Linked DNA regions of Homo sapiens. The protein of the gene in region 1 purifies or fractionates together with the protein of each later gene. This does not show direct contact. Each region holds a gene or a part of one and is shown on either strand. Other genes may lie near its edges.

Region 1 (4,476 bases):
ATGGGAGTAAGACCAATACTATGGTATACTTTTTTGGTTTAGACATCCTATCTACCTAGTTTTCAAACTCCATGCCTGAGGGGCATGATGAACCAAAGACAAAATTGGATAAAGCACAGGAAAGAGAGAAAATGCAAGAAAGCGTTGTAAAAAGAACAATTTACGGAACTAAAATTATTTAATTGTGTAGGAAAACAGAATGGGGAAGATAATTTTTTAGCTGCACTGGGAGTTAAGAAATAATCTAAATGGATACAATATATAAACAGCTCTTTGTAAAGTGCCGTACAAAAGTAAGATCTTTCTCAAGTGGTTCTACACTTTCTAAAGGGCTGGAGTTCTTCATTTATTAATACAACATACACTATTACATATACTATATATTATAGATAGTATAGATATCCTATATACTGATACATACTAATAATACAACATATACTAAACTATTAATACAACATATACTAAACTGTGCCATAGTTCAGGCATTTGGAGTGCAGTGGCACAATCTCAGCTCACTGGGCTCAAACAATCCTCCCACCTCAGCCTCCCGAGCAGCTGGGACCACTGGCATGCCTGGCTATTTTTTTGTATTTTTTGTATTTTTAGTAGACACAGGGTCTCACCATGTTGCCCAGATTGGTCTCGAACCCGTGAGCTCAAGCAATCCGCCCACCTCAGCCTCCCAAAGTGCTGGGATTACAGGCATGAGCCAGTAATCTGCCCTTTCGCAGACACGCAGTAATTTTTATACAAATGGGGGCAGGGGATGGAAACTGATTGGGTGATGAACCAGTTAAGTGGCAAAACTACAGACCGGTTAGATCTTGATTGTCTTCCTTTAAAAGCTAATCAGGAAAAAGCGTTTGTGTCATTATTCTTTTTCAAATTAAAGATAAGCTAAGAAAATAGAATATAAGACTTACTGAAGACATTAATGTAAACCCAAGTTTTTAGTCAGCCTCCTTATAACCTCAAAGTCCAGAAGAGGAGAACCACTTGTTTTTCAGATTTTTCTATTGTCCTGTGTGTGCTCTTTTGTTCTCAATCCCAGCTCGCTGCTGTCAGGTGTTTACTCCATTCACTTCCGACCCCTTTTCAATGCCTGAGGGTGGGTGTAATCAAATAACCTTCCTTTTGTAGGATTATTCTGCTGATATCTTACCAGGTGGCCCTCCCCACCACCCCCCAAATTCCCTCATTTTAATAATGTGATCACCCTGGGGACCAAAAGATTAAAACTTTATTATTCTTATTTAAAAGAAATGAAGCAAAGAAATTTACAAAGTAATTCATATATAACTAAGAGGCAGTTGAGTGGTGGGAAGGGACAGTTGTTTTGCTCCATTCACTACAATGCTGTACATGACTGACAGAAAGTAAGTCATGCTCAGTACAGATGCCTCTCTTGGGGTTATTTTTTTTTTATTTTATTTTTGGAGACACGGTCTCGCTCTGTCGCCCAGGCTGGAGTGCAGTGGCGCGATCTTGGCTCACTGTAACCTCCGCCTGCCGGATTCAAGCAATTCTCTTGCCTCAGCCTCCCCAGTAGCTGGGAGCTGGGACTCCCGCCACCAGGCCCAGCAAATTTTTTGTATTTTAGTAGAGACGGATTTCACCCTGTTGCCCAGGGTGGTCCCCAACTCCTGAGCTCAGGCAATCCACAGGCCTCGGCCTCCCAAAGTGCTAGGATTACAGGCGTGGGCCACCGCGCCTGGCCTATTTTTATTTTTTTGAGACTGGGTCTTGCTGTCTCCCAGGCAGGAGTGCAGTGGTGCGATCCTGGCTCACTGCAACCTCCGTCTCCCGGGTTCAAGTGATTCTCCTGCCTCAGCCTCCCGAGTAGCTGGGATTATAGGCGTGTGCCACCACGTCTGGCTAATTTTTTGTATGTTTAGTAGAGATGAGGTTTCACCATGTTGGCCAGGCTAACTTCCGACCTCAAGTGATCCTCCCGCCTCGGCCTCCCAAAGTGCTGGTATTACAGGCGTGTGCCGCCACGCCCGGCCTCTTGGGGTTATTTTTAATGTTCAAGGAATGAACAAAGACCGCCTGCAGCCAGTTCCATTATTCAAGGAATCGAAGTAAAATTTTGTTTTAAGAGAGGGTGGTGCTAAGAAATAAAGTCCATCTGTAGGCCAGGGTTAAAAGAAAAGAAAATAAAGTGCGAATAATACTGTACGGCTGCCTTGGTGTATAGTGGTGAGCATAGCTGCCTCCAAATAACACCGTACAACAAAGTATTTACCTTTTTAAAAATACATATACGTTTTGCACTGAGGCTCTCGGCTTCAGGAGGCTGATAAAACTTCAAGTTCCTTTGCTACAGACCACCAGGGATACACCTGTCCACCCACAAAGAAGTGAGGTTTACTAGCTGCGGCAAGGGAGACACGGCAGACCAGCGCCTGCCTTCTCGGCACAGGGAAAGGCATCATTCCGGGAAGTTTAGGTGAAGTTTAACACGAAGCCGCCTCTGACAGATTCGGCGCAGGGCTGTGTGTCATGCAGTTAACATCACACGGGGCTGAGACGCTGACTCGGGGACACAAGCTCAAGCCAAATGTGCAATGCTGGGTCGGAAGCCCCTTATCCCGGGATGCGCTCCAGGGAATCGGGGCGGCCTCCCAGCTTAGCGTCTGCAGGCTACGCGGTTTCAAGCAGCAACGTCTCTCCCAGCCTAGCTGTGCAGAGGACGACTTTTCAACAGAGGCCGAGAGCTGGCCGCCTCCGCTCCCCCGGCTCCCGGCTCCTGCCGCGGTCCCACCCAGCTCCCGCTTCCCCCGGTTCCCTGGTGCCCTCGGCTGCCCTCAGCTCTCCCCTAGCCCGCGGAACGCTAGGCCCGGGCCTGCAGGCGACACGCGCGGGCACGCACGGAGCACGGCCCGGCCGCCAGACCACGGCCGCCTAGCGACCCGGAAACACTCGCCTCCAGTGAATTAAGGCAGTGACACCTGACTATCCTCCACATGCCCCCAGAACTGTGACGAGGCCCCACGCAGAAGACCGCCCCACTCTCGTCGCACTAGGGACCCCGAAATCCGACCGCCCATGGGAAGCCACTCGCCAGAGTCTTACCTGAGGTGCGTTCAAGGGGGACTGCGCATGCGCAACGGTTGGCGACGCTCCACCCCTTCCGTTGTCGGCTCCGCCCCCACATTCGTAATTACTATTAATTGTACTCTGACCGCGACCCGAACCTGACTGCCCTCTATGTACATTATTTTACGGAATGTTCGCAATAACACATGCAACAGGTGCTGAGTGTATCTCATTTTACGGAGAAAGCAAGAGGCTTACACTGCCCACAATCGCAGTTAGTAAAATCAGAATTCACATTTAAACCCAGGAAACTGACTACGTGTAGCCTGTTCTGGGTCGTTTTTCTAACACCCTGAAACTTAAAGTGTGATAGTCTCAGAGGACTACCAACATAAGCATCACCTGAAAACTTGTTAGAAATGAAGAACTAGGCCGGGCGCGGTGGCTCACGCCTATAATCCCAGCACTTTGGGAGGCCTAGATGGGAGGATCACGACATCAGGAGACCGAGACCATCCTGGCTAACACGGTGAGACCCCGTCTCTACTAAAAATACGTTTAAAAAAAAATAGCTGGTCGTAGTGGCATGCGCCTGTAGTCCCAGCTACCGGGGAGGCTGAGGCAGGAGAATCGCTTGAACCCGGGAGGCGGAGGTTGCAGTGAGCTGAGATCGCACCACTGCACTCCAGCCTGGGCGACAGAGTGAGACTTTGTCTCAAAAAAAAAAAAATGCAGAACTACTGAATCTGAAACTGCATTTTAGCCAGATCCCTAAAGAATTCGTTTGCAAAGTAACACTTGAGAAAGCGCGAAGGGGACATGGAAACAGAGAAGAGAAAAAGAATATAAAAGTATATTGAAGTACCGTGTGCAAGACAAAGCCTGGAACACCCAAAACAGGCACAGATCTACCTTCATCGAAGTTCTAGTCTAGTTAGGGGTATTTACCACAAATAACTGATGGAAAGTACACAATGATAAGGGCCTTGCTTCTAATCCGAGGAATCTGTAAAGGTTTTAGAGAAGGGGTGATAGCTGGAGCTAACTCTGTCCACGCCAAGTAAAGGAAGTGCCTCTGCAAGGTGCTCTGTGATTGCCCCAATTTTCCTAACACCCGCCCCACCCCTAGTCCAGCCCATGTGGTTCATCTGTGTAACTAAAGCATCATAAATTGTGAAAAACATATGAATTTAGGGAGAACAAAAACTTTCAGACCATATAGCAAGGCTCCACTACATTGGTTTGAAATACCAGAATATCAGTGTTAAAAGTACCAGGATGACAAAGCAAGATGAAAAAGCTATTGGGGCTTGGTGCGGTGGCTCACACCTGTAATCCCAGCACTTTGGGAGGCCAAGGTGGGCAGATAACCTGAGGTCAGGAGTTCAAGACCAGCCTAGCCAACAAGGAGAAACCCCATCTCTACTAAAAATATGA
Region 2 (3,208 bases), on another chromosome or scaffold:
ATGCACCCTGGTCTACTGATTGCACTAAAACATCCAAAATGGAATCTAGGTGACCCCCTAGGGAGGATCCTACAGGAAGGTGGGTCTCAAGATATCCTTGGGCACTTCTGTCATCAGTCTTCTTCAATTTTTTTTTTTTTTTTTTTTGAGATGGAGTCTCACTCTGTCGCCCAGGCTGGAGTGCAGTGGTGTGACCGTGGCTCACTGCAACCTCCACCTCCTGGGCTCAAGTGATCCTCCCACCTCAGCCTCCCTAGTAGCTGGGACTACAGGTGTGCACCATCAAGCCCAGCTAATTTTTGTATTTTTTGCAGAGACGGGGTTTCACCATGTTCCCCAGGCTGGTCACAAACTTCTGAGCTCAAGTGGTCTGCCCACCTCAGCTTCTCAAGTGTGTTGGGATCACAGATGCGAGCCACCTTGCCCAGCCTCTTCAATTCTTTCTTAAAGGTGGTGATGTTGGTGGTATCTCTGAAATCCTGTGGCCTTTCTCAGTTACCCATAGTTGATAAGGAAGTCTCCTAAGATCTAAATGGTTCCTCTCTCCCAGGCTTAAAAATACTACAATATCAAGGCAACACCGTTGTATTGGAAAAGAGCCAGTTTCTATGTGGTCATATTTTGTGAAGTGCCTATGCCACAAAGGCCCTCTCCCAGGGTTTATATCACTTTGAGAAGAGAATATGAGACGTGGACAGGGAGAAGATAGGAAGAGGAGCATGATGCAGGCACACCTAGACAAAGAATAATAACGGTACTCAGATTCCTCTACAGTTTATTGTTATAGCAGAAGTTGTGGGAGACGGGAGGGCACCCTCCACACATACTACAGTGTGGTCAGAGCCCCAGGGTAGCCCTTTCCACCCTATGCCAAGCCCCAAGCAGCCCAGCCCAAGCTTAGCTCCCTCCCCAGTCCCACTCTAGATGCACACTGAGCTACCAAAGTTAGTGCAGCCAAACGGCCCCAGGCCCCTTCCTGTTGCCCCAGCACCAATCCTTCCCCACACTCGTTCACTGCCCGCCAACTCCCATTCCAACTTCCTTTTTACACTGGATGTTTCTATCACATCCTGAGGACCACTAACCCACCAGCAAGTCTCCCCCTGACACACATTCACGTAGGTCCATACCCTTCAGAGTCCTAAAGGGTTAATGAGAAGCCACCTCAGCTTTGGTGAATGGAGCCCCAGCCCCAAATCCCCTCCCCTTGCAAATATGGGACAAGTAGGGAGAGTCTGATGGAGGCACCAGGACAACTACAACAACCTCTTACCCCTCAGCTATAGACACCTAGATCAGGACAGAGGATGCATATGCCCTCTCCACCTTAACATCAAAATGGGGGAGGAGGAGAATTTAGGGGTCTGGGTCCCTAAGAGATATTAGGACATCTCTTCCAGGAGCTGGGGGGAATCACGGGTTAAAGGTCAAGGTTAGGGTAGCAATCAAAGATCAAGGTCATCTCCCCGCATGATCTGCCCTTTTTCCCTTGCTTACGGTGGCCCAATGCCCCTTCAGCACCTCCCAGGTTAGCTCTGGGGGAGGTGAGGGCTGGGTCCCACTCTAGGGCAACAAGGGCCATTCAACAGGAGACCTCCATGGTGTGCCCCGGGGGCCCCGAAGAAAGAGTTCCAGACTCGCTGCTCTGGGACAGGGTGCGAGAGCGGGACCGGTTGCCATCAACGGATGCTGCACTGGTCAGAGAGGCTGTACGAGACCGGGACAGGCGAGTCATGCAGGATGAGGCCACTGTGGAGACAGCACGATGCACAAGCAGTCAGAGAGGAAGTGGGGAAGGGGGGCTGGCGACTCAGGGTGTGGTCCTTGGATTATGGACTAGTTATAACTAAGCCAGGGGATCAACGAGCTCGATTGGGCAGATAGCGGTGAGTCCAGGCATTCACCTAAAACGGTTCCACCCCGTCAGTGCCTATCTCTCCTCTAGTGCAGCAAGCTCTTGTCCCGATACTCACTGTAGCCCATGCCTTGCAGGAAGTACTTGAAGGCCTCGGTCAGCTTGCCTGGCTGCGGAAGTAAGAAGAGGCGAGGGAGACGGTGAGATGAGGTTAGAGGAAGAGCTGGAGCCTGAGGCTGCGGCACTGTGGGGCCGGGTGTGTGGCAAAGGGCAGAGCCCAGTGCCACCGGTATCCTATGTCCCTTCCCCATCCCATGGACGGCAGCGGCACTCACCTGAGTCAGCTGGGGCTGACCTCCGGAGTCAGCCATCTGTTCAGGAGAGCACCACCCAGAAAAAGTGAAACACACATAAATGAGCCATGCAGAGAGGTGGAAAGGGTCTCTCTTCCCTAGCTTCTTCACTCTAGCCCCTTTGTTTTGTTCTTCGTTCACCCCATTTGCTCCCATGCCGGGCCCTGGAGGCTTAGCAGCTGCATGTAGAGAGGATATATGACTGTGGACGGGGGCCCAGGAACAGGTTACTGACCTTGAGGAACGAGGTCTGGGTGGGGTCCAGTTTTGAGTTACATTCCACCTGGAGTAAGCAGGAGGCTGAATGAATGAGGTCACGCCCACTGTGGCGCCTCCCCCGTAAGGGACCCAGGAACCCAGACCCCAGTCCCTTTTCTATCAGCTCCCTACCCAGTTCCTCCTTACCAGGAATCAAATTCTTAGTGCCCCAAAGTTGATCTCCCTGTGCCAAACAGGACATCCCCTTGGCAAGATACTCTTCTGACCACCACTTTAGGACCCCAACCCTCCTCCCTCACTCACCCCAAAATTCCCTACTAACCACTGCATCTTCATGAGGTGCTTGGTCTCCTACCACCAGCATCACAGGACACCTAAAGACACAGTGTTGGGGAGAAGGCAGTGAGCCCCTGGCACTCCCTCACTGGCCTCTGCCTAGGAGTGCAGCTGGAAAAATATCTGGCTCCAAAGAGGAAAGACACTTCTGTGTCTCCCTGCTGATGCCACCAAGAGGATTCAAAGGGGGAAGACCTAGAGGGAAGTGATTTACCAAATAGGATGGGGTGGGACATGACAAGGAAGTTCCCTGGCAAAAGATTCTCCTTCTTCTAAGGGACACAAGCTCCTAGGGAAGATCCAGGGAGACAGGCAATGCATTATCTCTTAAAGTCTTACCTGAGGGTGATATCACCTCCACGCTCAAAGTTCAGGTCTCGGCGGCTAGAAAGGGGTTAAAAGAGTAGGAATTTTAGGTGGGCAATGCTATCTAACCAGATATAAG

What was found.
Region 2: the proteins of CEBPZOS (region 1) and NDRG2 purify together in Homo sapiens (co-immunoprecipitation; one large-scale study listed by IntAct). This does not show direct contact.

Annotation. Positions count from the first base shown.
Region 1 is NC_000002.12:37,195,120-37,199,595, reverse strand, and holds the start of CEBPZOS (protein CEBPZOS), read right to left. Parts: upstream 3,101-4,476; 5' UTR 3,076-3,100; exon of another isoform or gene 2,246-3,075; intron 1,103-2,245; exon of another isoform or gene 924-1,102; intron 1-923.
Region 2 is NC_000014.9:21,016,014-21,019,221, forward strand, and holds the end of NDRG2 (protein NDRG2), read right to left. Parts: intron 3,148-3,208; coding exon 3,103-3,147; intron 2,802-3,102; coding exon 2,750-2,801; intron 2,651-2,749; coding exon of another isoform or gene 2,614-2,650; intron 2,509-2,613; coding exon of another isoform or gene 2,492-2,508; coding exon 2,444-2,491; intron 2,227-2,443; coding exon 2,191-2,226; intron 2,026-2,190; coding exon 1,974-2,025; intron 1,750-1,973; coding exon 1,583-1,749; 3' UTR 759-1,582; downstream 1-758. UniProt on the Homo sapiens protein: Contributes to the regulation of the Wnt signaling pathway. Down-regulates CTNNB1-mediated transcriptional activation of target genes, such as CCND1, and may thereby act as tumor suppressor. May be involved in dendritic cell and neuron differentiation.